3 linked regions of the Homo sapiens genome follow. The protein of the gene in region 2 binds, or shares a complex with, the protein of the main gene of each other region. Each region holds a gene or a part of one and is shown on either strand. Other genes may lie near its edges. The genes, in order: GTF2H5, POLR2G and GTF2A1.

Region 1 (3,657 bases), on a different chromosome or scaffold from region 2:
TCATCCCGGAGATCCTCATTCTCATTAAGCCTTATATGCCGATTTTTCCTTTTTTTCAGTCACCCAATAAACCACAGACTCCCAAGCTATCTCTGTCTCTTGCATTTTCATGATCTATGGCCCTGTTCACCATCTCCTACCCACCACCCTCCCCCACCTACCCACCGCAATCCTTTCCACTTTGCCCTCTGGGACATAGTGAGATGGCAGCAGCAGGATGCCCTGTAGCCTCAGCCTCTTCTCTGAACTTTCCTTTTTCCTTCCCCCACCCACCTTTTCCTTTTTTGCTGTGACAAAACCTGACTTTGTCCTGAGCTCACTGCTTCTCCCACCACCTTATCAGGTGGTGCCTTTTTTCCTCTACAAAGGCACCCTCTTGTACCATTGGGTCAGGAAACAGGATCAGTACCTTGCTTATTATTGCCACTTCCAGAAATTCTCCCTCCCTCTTCCATAGAAACCCCCAGTTATCAATCCCAGATCATCAGAGTGGACTACCCACCAACCCTCCTCTTTATAATCATCTACAGACACCCCAATCTGTCCTGAAGGTTTTCCCTTGAAAAAACTATCTTCAGTAGCTCTTCTCTCAAATCCTTAGTGATGTTAGTATCCGTGTGGGTAGTCCTTTAGATACCCTGTTCTCCCAGTTCCCTGGCCTCCTCTTCCACTGAGCTTGTCCTCCACCTCATCACAGCCACTCATTCACATAGTTGTAGCTAGACCTATCCTTCCTTACCCTCGTGCCAGCTCTTCAGTCTCATTTCAGGCATCTGACTCTGACCACCACCTCCTCTTTCCAGTTCACTCCCTCTCATACCTCACTCCATCATTTCTTCAACTTCGCCAGACCTATGGTCTGTTGATATTCCCATCTGTTCAGAGTCCCACACCTCTTCCTAGCTTCCAGTCTACCTTTCTGGTCGTTGTAGCAAAATTTCTCAGTAAAGAGAAGACTTGGTTCTCTTCACTGTCTCTAATTTCTTTCCTCCCATATGAAACCCACTCCAGTCATGCTTTCCCTATTATGACTCCACCAAAACTGCTATTGCCAAGGTCCAGTGACTTTCTGAATCCAGGGATCAATTTTCAGCCCTTGCTATACCCTATAAGCCTTTGACAGAATTGATCACTCCCACTTCCTGAGTAGCCTTTGTTCACATCGCTTTCAGGACTCTTTGGGTTTTCTTTCTACCTCGGTGGTCACTTCTTACTCAGCTTCTTCACTCAGGGGCCAGTAGGCATCTCAAAATATAACATCAAAAACTAAACCTTTTTTTTTTTTAGTAGAGTCAGGGTCTCACTGTGCTGTCCAGGCTAGTCTCTAACTCCTGACCTCAAGCAGTCCTCCAGCCTAGGCCTCTCGAAGTGCTGGGATTACAGCATGAGCCACCATGCCCACCCTAAAACCAAACTTGATCTTACCTGCAGATCTTACACATTCCTCTTTATCTCAGTAAAAATCTCCTCCAGTCTTCCATTTGCTCAGATGAAAAATCTTGGAGTTTTCTTGTTCCTCTTTCTCAAAGCTCATGTCCAGTATTAGCAAATTATGTTGGTTTTATGTCAGTATATATCTAGAATTCAACCACTTCTCATCACCTCCACTATTACCACCTACATCAAAATCATCATCTCTTGCCTGGATGTCACCTCATGGGTCCCCTGCTTCCATCCTTGCCTCTGCCACTCCCAGTCTTTTCTCAACCCAGCAGCCAATATGATCCTTACAGTTAAAATTTAAGTCAGTTTGTAAGTTAAATCATGTCACTTGGTAAAACCCAAAGTCCCCCAAATCAGTTCTGAGGCTCATACTCATCTAGGGATAGAAGTAAATCCCGTGTTAGCATCAGTTAATACCTGTGCTTGTACTTAAATCTTATTTTTCTTGTTTTCAGTAAATTATAGTGACATCTTTTGGATTAAATTGTTACCTTTACAATTGATATTGACATTTCTCAAGACACCAAAAGATTATATGAGATTTTTTTCTCAAGAATTGCAAAAATCTGTGGTGCAGCTTGACATTTTTATATTCATTTTTTGCTAAACACATTGTGTATTAGATCTAAAGAGTGTCCTTTGTCATGATTCAAGGTTTTTATGAAAGAGACATTTTGCTGTAAATCTGTACTGCCCGAGAAGAAATTGTATCCCTCTTTTCCCTTATGACTATCCTATTCTTTCCAAACCAAAAACCACAAGTTAATAAAATTGAATTTGGACCTCTTTCCTTGAATGCCTATTACAAGCCAAGCACTGTCCTTGACATTATCTCCTTTAATTTCCGTAAACAATTCTGTTATGTAGCCTCACTTTTGAGGTTGGGAACAGAGGCTCTGGGAGATTAAGTACCTATTCTATTCAAGGTCACACAAGTAAGTGATGAAGCTGGGGTTGAATCCAGGTATGACTCTTGATATACACCCTGCCTGACCAAAGTGACTGTTTAACTGGTTTTGTAAGTTAATTTGTCACTGGTAAAACATTGAACACCTACTGGTTCCTTAGATGTAATGGGCATAGACAAGGAAGAAATTCAGTGTTTAAATCAGTTAAGAAAGCTGTGATTCTAGGCCCTACTAACTACAAAGCTTTCAATATTCTTTTATTTTTTCCACTTAGTGACAAATTATTCTTTAAAAATCTTGCCATTGGCCTCTGCCTCTTCAACTTACACTAATAGTTCTTTTTTTTTTTTTTGAGACAGAGTCTCGCTCTGTCGCCCAGGCTGGAGTGCAGTGGCACGATCTCCGCTCACTGCAAGCTCTGCCTCCCAGGTTCACACCATTCTCCTGCCTCAGCCTCCCAAGTAGCTGGGACTACAGGCACCCGCCACCACACCCGGCTAATTTTTTGTATTTTTAGTAGAGACGGGGTTTCACCGTGTTAGCCAGGATGGTCTCGATCTCCTGACCTGGTGATCCACCCACCTCGGCCTCCCAAAGTGCTGGGATCACAGGTGTGAGCCATCGCACCCGGCCAACTTACACTAATAGTTCTAAAATGAAGCCATGTCTATAAATTGTTAACACTTGAGGCAGAGAGGAAGTGAGGGATTGAGTAACAGAACTTTAAAAATCATTCTAAAAATTCTACATGTTCACATTTAATTGCTCAAGTCTCTGTGATGTGATTTGACAACAAGCTGTCTTACAATCATGTGTTTGTCTTTACAGTGATCCTGCCATGAAGCAGTTTCTGCTGTACTTGGATGAGTCCAATGCCCTGGGGAAGAAGTTCATCATTCAAGACATTGATGACACTCACGTCTTTGTAATAGCAGAATTGGTTAATGTCCTCCAGGAGCGAGTGGGTGAATTAATGGACCAAAATGCTTTTTCCCTTACCCAGAAATGAAAATACTCAATATGGACCATTTAGGAATTATAAGCAGCAACTGTGAAAGACTTGCCACTCAATATCTTAGGTGACTGATTAGACATAGAGGGTTGTTTTAGGAGCATGCCACGGGAAAGACTGAGGGATCATGATCATTTGTTCAGAAAAAAAGCCCCTGAACTGATTTTGTTACCATAGAATTTAAAAAAAAAAAAAGCTTTAACAGTTGGCTGTAATTTGGCTTTTATTATCCTTTATTAAAATACAAATGTCAATGCTTTTCCTGCCTTTTTAATACCATGTCAGTGTAACATA
Region 2 (2,788 bases):
GTAAATATGTAAATAAATACAAATGAAAGCTTAAAAAAAAAGAGAAAAGGGCTGGGTGCGCTGGCTCACACCTATAATCCCAGTGCTTTGGGGGGCAGAAGTGGGAAGATTGCTTGAGCCTAGGAGTTTGAGACAGCCTGGGCAACATATCAAGACTCTGTCTCTACAAAAAGTTTTTAAAAATTAGCCTAGCATGGTGGTGTGCACCTGTGGTTTCAGCAACTTGGGAGGCTGAGGTGGGAGGATCGCTTGAGCCCAGGAGTTCAAATTTACAGTGAGCTGTGATCGCACCACTACTTTCCAACCTGGGCAACAGAGTGAGACCCTGTCTCAAAATTTAAAAAGCAAAAAACAAAAACACAACACTTGAGGGGACAAAGAAAAGGCAAGATCACTCTTTTGTTTTTTTTTTTTGAGACAGAGTCTTGCTCTGTTGCCAGGCTGAAGTGCAATGGTGCAATCTCGGCTCACTGCAACCTCCACCTCCTGGGTTCAAACGATTCTCCTGCCTCAGTCTCCTGAGTAGCTGGGATTAGAGGTGCACGCCACCATGCCCGGCTAATTTTTGTATTTTTAGTAATGACGGGGTTTCACCATGTTGGTCAGGCTGGTCTGAAACTCCTGACCTCGTGATCCACCGGCCTCGGCCTCCCAAAGTGCTGGGATTACAGGCGTGAGCCACCGTGCACGGCCGTAAGATCACTCATTTTTTTTCTAGGTTGGACTCTTCACAGAAATTGGGCCCATGTCTTGCTTCATCTCTCGACATGTAAGTCTGGGCACACTGGGTGGGGCTGAGGAAGACAGATACTCATTCATCACCATCTATTGAAGCATCCATTTAAAGTGCTAACCTAGATCTCACTTTCCTTTCAGTCCATCCCTTCAGAGATGGAGTTTGATCCTAACTCCAACCCACCATGTTACAAGACAATGGATGAGGTGAGTGGACAGAAAGAAGTCAGGGAGACAAGGAGAGAATCAGCCATCCTGAGGGAGAATATTGGCCTGGGGATGGCTGAGTACAGATGGTCCCCGAATTACCATGGCTTGATTCATGATTTTATGACTTTACGATGGTGTGAAAGTGATGTGCATTCAATATGCCCCCGGGCTTACAGTGAAGTGATTGTGATGTAACTTCTCATAAACTGAGGAGCATCTGTACACTGTTCCCTCCTCTCCTCAGGATATTGTGATTCAGCAGGACGATGAGATCCGCTTAAAGATTGTGGGGACCCGTGTGGACAAGAATGACATTGTGAGTCTTTTCCCCACCTCTCTACCTATACCAGGTTGAGCTGAGAACTGTCGATTTCTTTTTTCTTTTTTTTTTTTTTTTGAGACGGAGTCTTGCTCTGTCACCCAGGCTGGAGTGCAGTGGCGCGATCTCGGCTCACTGCAAGCTCTGCCTCCCGGGTTCATGCCATTCTCCTGCCTCAGCCTCCCGAGTAGCTGGGACTACAGGCGCCCGCCACCACACCTGGCTAATTTTTTATATTTTTAGTACAGACAGGGTTTCACCATGTTAGCCAGGATGGTCTCGATCTCCTGACCTAATGATCCACCCGACTCGGCCTCCCAAAGTGCTGGGATTACAGGTGTGAGCCACCGCGCCTGGCCGAGAGCTGTCGATTTCTTACCACCCACAGTTTCAGGGGGTTCTGTGCTCTTCTGCCAGGAAGAAGGGATGGATGGGCAGAAGGCCTGGGGCTGCAGGGTGGAGGTTGGTTCTGTGCTCATCTTGGCTTCACTTTCTTTTTACCATCTTTCTTGCAGTTTGCTATTGGCTCCCTGATGGACGATTACTTGGGTGAGTGCCTGATCATAGGTGCTGGGGTTATTGCCTGGAGAAGGGATGTGTGGGGGTGGGGAGTAATATAGGATTCAATGCCCAAATCAGAGAGACAGAAGAAACTTTCATGCTGTCTGCTTGAAAGATCCAGGACATTTGCCTTGGGATGAGGAGTACATGGTTGTGGCTACCCTAAATTCCGGTTCTAACTGATATGCTTTTTCTGGTTTCGCAGGGCTTGTAAGCTGAGCCTGGTGGCCTCCTACCCTTGGTCCTACTCTAGGAAGTGTGATTGTCACACTTATCATGTTGTCCAGAGGTCCAGTCTGGCTGCTGTTGTGGAGGCAAGGAAGGCAACTCATCCCAGAAGGCATCTGGTGCTTCTTGTAGCTTAACTACTGCCTCCTCATTTTTCAGTATGTGTTCTAAGTATAAAAAGTCCTTGGTTCTCATGGAAGTGTTATCTTCTTTTTTTTTTTTTAGCAGGAACAATAACTCTTTAAAGAGGCTGTGGAGTTGGCTGCTTACTAGCCCCTCTTTTTCTTAGACTGATGCCTCTACTAGCCTCAGCCACCCAGGGGAACTGACTAACCCATTTGTCCAGGTTTAAAGGTGACCTCACTGAAGTCAAGGCTCTGATGTTGGGTCTTTGGCTTCCAGCAAATGATACCATCATTAGTGGCATTCTGGGTCCTGATCTAGTTCCAGAGTGTTTGCTCTTCTCCTGCCCTTAAAAGTAACCAAGAGCATAGCTGGGAAAGAAGGGAGAGGAGACAGCAGACAGGGAGAGATGAATAAGAGGCTAGTAATGACACAGACTGTAGGATCTCAACACAGCCTTTCCTAAGTTGGGTATATAAACAATAGTATATCACTATACTAAACTGAACTGAAGATGTAAAAGGGCTCACAATCTAGTTAGGGTGACAAAAAATGTATGAAATGCCTACAGGATTAAAGAAACATGCCAATTTTCCCTGGCACTATACCTCT
Region 3 (3,657 bases), on a different chromosome or scaffold from region 2:
CCTCGGCCTCCCAAAGTGCTGGAATTACAGGCATGAGACACCGCACCCAAGACACCGCACCCAGCCACTAACATAGTATTGAAAACAATCAGGAATACTAATCTTTGCCAGGTATCTGAAATTACATGGAGAAAATTCATCTTCTGTTCCCAAAATGATTCAGGTATACATTTGTATATTGTGTTGACTAATAACTAAAACTTACTAAATTCTGTGTACTTTATAAATACATGTACAAACTAGTTTTTTCACAAAAATCCTATAAGATAGACATTATTATCTCCCTTTTACAGAAAAAGAATCTGACAAGAAAGAAGTTAGGTAGCTTATTCAAGATCACTCTAATGGCAGACAGAATAGGGATATAACCCAGGTGGTCTGACTTCAATGTCCCAGTCAGGGCTAGAGAGTGAATGTCTCTGCATTCTGTACCCCAGGACCCTCACTTGCCTCCCTTTAATCCCAGTACTAGTCCAAATTCCTAGTCTCTAAACTAGACTGCTGCTATCAGAGCAGGTCACCGACCATCAAAACCATCTCAGGTGCCATTCACCAACAACCCAAGATCTAGTCAAAACTCTGTTACCTTCCTGCTTACTGCTAAGTACTGTATATGTCACATAGAGGCAAAAGGGCTAGGTTCATGGCTCTACCATTTATTAGCTAAACGACCTTGTCAAAGCACATTCCAAGTCTACTTTCTCACCTATAAAATGTGATGAGACCTACTGCTCCCCAAGTTAATCCCCTTATCACTCCCCTACTGTTAATCCCCAAGACCATGGAGAAAATGTCTCCAGGCCACATCAGAGACCTTCACTGCAGCCCGTCACATCACAAGCCCAGAGGTTAGGTGGCTAAACCTGGCAACATGGTGGGCTAGAAATTCTGAAGGATTCTCCTACTTTCACAAAACATCTAGCTCCTGGATAAAATATATTACACTTCTAGGTTCCCAAGAAATAATGCTGTAGAAACAGAGCTTTCCCTAAGAATAAATGAAATGAAATAGTAGATTATTATTCAACTTATGGTCCAAATATTTACACATAATTAGAGTGTATCAAGTACTTTATATATATATATATATATATATATATATATATAACTAGAGTATATTTAGAATAGTGGTTCTCAGCCAGAGGTGATTTTGGCCCCCGGCGACATCTGGCAATGTCTAGAGACATTTTTGGTTACAACTGAAGAGTGCTACTGGCATCTAGTGGGCAGAGGCCAGTTGTGCTGCTAACATTCTACAATCAATAGGACAGCCCCTGCAACAAAGAATTAACCAGTGCAAAATGTCAATAATGCCAGTGTTGAGAAATCTGAACCAGAGGCAGATAAACTGAATTTCAGATATACTTCCAATTGAGGCAACTCTTCTCATTTGTTTTATTAAAAAGAGAGAAAATGTTTTATATCTCCCACAGTACTTGACATTTGGACATAGGTAGGTTGGAAAATCTAGAAATCAGGTTGATTTTATCATTCACTTTGAAGAGAATTTCTACAGTGTCATTCCCACCCACAGACACTCACCAATCCAAAACACATTTACATTCGAATATAGATTTACTGAAAACCAGGGCTGTATTTTATTGTGTTTTTTCTACCTCTCACAGTTTACACATTAAAGTAGGCCTGCAGTGTTTCAAAAGATAACCTCAAAGATTGGGTTGAAATATTCTTATCATCTCCCTTTCTGCTTACCTCATTAACCCTCAAATTACATGCATTCTCATCATTCATCTTTGTTCTCAATCTAATTCACCACTGCCTCCTTTACAGCCTTATACAAGCTTTTGATAAGTTTGTAAAATGGCCCCAGAAAGTAGGGAGAGGGGCTAGAGCTAATGACAGGCTTTCTAAACCATAAAATATGAAATTAAAGTTCGTTTTATTAAGCAAGAATGTCTAAACCTGAGCAGTCCAATATGGCAGCAACTAGCCATATGTAGTGATTTAAGTTTAGATTAATAAAAATTCAGTTCCTCAGTTCCACCAACCACATTTTGAGTGCTTAATAAGCACATGTGGCTAGTGGCTACCATACTGAAGAGCACAGGTACAGAACACTTTCATCACTGCAGAAAGTTCTATTGGACAATGCTGGCTGTCCAGCTGTTAAATCTAGGGCATATTCTAGAAATTCTAATGAGATCCTGAAGAAATTCAGTGCAGAGAATTAAAATAACAAACTCATTTTAGTCTAACCGTTTTATTTTTAACTCCAATACAACCCAGATAGAAGAGTATGGCCCATTTAAAAACAACAAGAATATTACACTATTTTGTTCAGTTAGATTCAGGTGCCGTATCTATTATCAAACACTTCAATCAAATACTTACTGAATGCCAACCACATATGCCCAGACATCGTGGTAGAAGCTGGGGATTCAAAATTGAGTAGGTCACATTTTTTGTCATTTAAAAACTAACCATTAAACTAAAAATCAGTGTGTTACCTATAAAATATGTACTAAAAAAGTCATATATAACAAAAATGGAGGTGGAAACATTTGGTCTCAAAGATGCTCATTCTCTTCGAGAGAATGTCTTGATTCTACTATTAACGATAGGGAAAATTCTCCAGATTTTCATTGTGAAAAGCGAGAGTAGATAACAATCTAGACTGACCACTAGTTTGACCTAGAGAAAATTACCTAACATCTTTAGAACTGATTTTCTACACCTAAAAATGCTGCATCTTCTATACAAGGTCACAAAACTACAAGGACAACCATTATAAAAGTATAACATAAATTGCAAAAAACTCATTCCACGTTACACTAAGGAATCAAAAGAAGCTTGTTTTCTTATTATTCACATCCCTCAGTTACTTCATGCTACTTGAACAATTTATATTGTTCTTCTTCCAACTCATGTCTCGGAATTAGCACTCTTACACTTGTATTTTTAGATACCTACTCTTCACTATTAGTAACCTGTAATTTTTCTCAAGGTAAATAAATATTTGCTCATCTGTTTCACACCTATATATTTTTCCTACCTCACACAGGAAATATTTTTGGGTTTTTCTGTTTTTTTTTTTTTTGAGACAGAGTCTTGATCTGTCACCCAGGCTGCAGTGTAGTGGCATGATCTCGGCTCACTGCAACCCCCGCCTCCTGGGTTCAAGCCATTCTCCTGCCTCAGCCTCCCCAGTAGCTGGGATTACAGGCACGCACCACCATGCCCAGCTAATTTTTGTATTTTTAGTAGACATAGGGTTTCACCATGTTGGCCAGGCTGGTCTCAAACTCCTCACACAGGAATATTCTTATTGAAAATTCTAGAGAAGTTTCCTGTAGATACCTATTAATAAATACGCCAAGACCTACCTCATCACCGCAATCAAGGTAAGATTTGCAACTGGTTGCCAAGTTGCAGCCTCGACACCTATGCTGAATGGATGAGACCACAACAAATGTTCCTTAACATTTATTAACTGTGATTATTTATTTGTACATAGATTTAAAGGAGCCTAATAATCAACTTCTAAACCAGCAGTTCTAAAACTCTTTCATCTCAGGACGATTTATCAAATTACTGAGACCCGGCCGGGAGCGGTGGCTCATGTCTGTAATCCCAGCACTTTGGGAGGCCGAGGTGGGGGGATCACAAGGTCAGGAGATCGAGACCATCCTGGCTAAC

The links.
Region 1: POLR2G (region 2) and GTF2H5 share a complex: the UniProt entries of both Homo sapiens proteins name them as parts of the TBP-based Pol II pre-initiation complex.
Region 3: POLR2G (region 2) and GTF2A1 share a complex: the UniProt entries of both Homo sapiens proteins name them as parts of the TBP-based Pol II pre-initiation complex.

The regions. Positions count from the first base shown.
Region 1 is NC_000006.12:158,188,798-158,192,454, forward strand, and holds part of GTF2H5 (general transcription factor IIH subunit 5), read left to right. Parts: intron 1-3,179; coding exon 3,180-3,360; 3' UTR 3,361-3,657. UniProt on the Homo sapiens protein: Component of the general transcription and DNA repair factor IIH (TFIIH) core complex, which is involved in general and transcription-coupled nucleotide excision repair (NER) of damaged DNA and, when complexed to CAK, in RNA transcription by RNA polymerase II.
Region 2 is NC_000011.10:62,764,464-62,767,251, forward strand, and holds the end of POLR2G (DNA-directed RNA polymerase II subunit RPB7), read left to right. Parts: intron 1-718; coding exon 719-769; intron 770-876; coding exon 877-942; intron 943-1,189; coding exon 1,190-1,261; intron 1,262-1,779; coding exon 1,780-1,813; intron 1,814-2,030; coding exon 2,031-2,044; 3' UTR 2,045-2,247; downstream 2,248-2,788. UniProt on the Homo sapiens protein: Core component of RNA polymerase II (Pol II), a DNA-dependent RNA polymerase which synthesizes mRNA precursors and many functional non-coding RNAs using the four ribonucleoside triphosphates as substrates.
Region 3 is NC_000014.9:81,210,803-81,214,459, forward strand, and holds part of GTF2A1 (transcription initiation factor IIA subunit 1), read right to left. Parts: intron 1-3,657. UniProt on the Homo sapiens protein: TFIIA is a component of the transcription machinery of RNA polymerase II and plays an important role in transcriptional activation. TFIIA in a complex with TBP mediates transcriptional activity.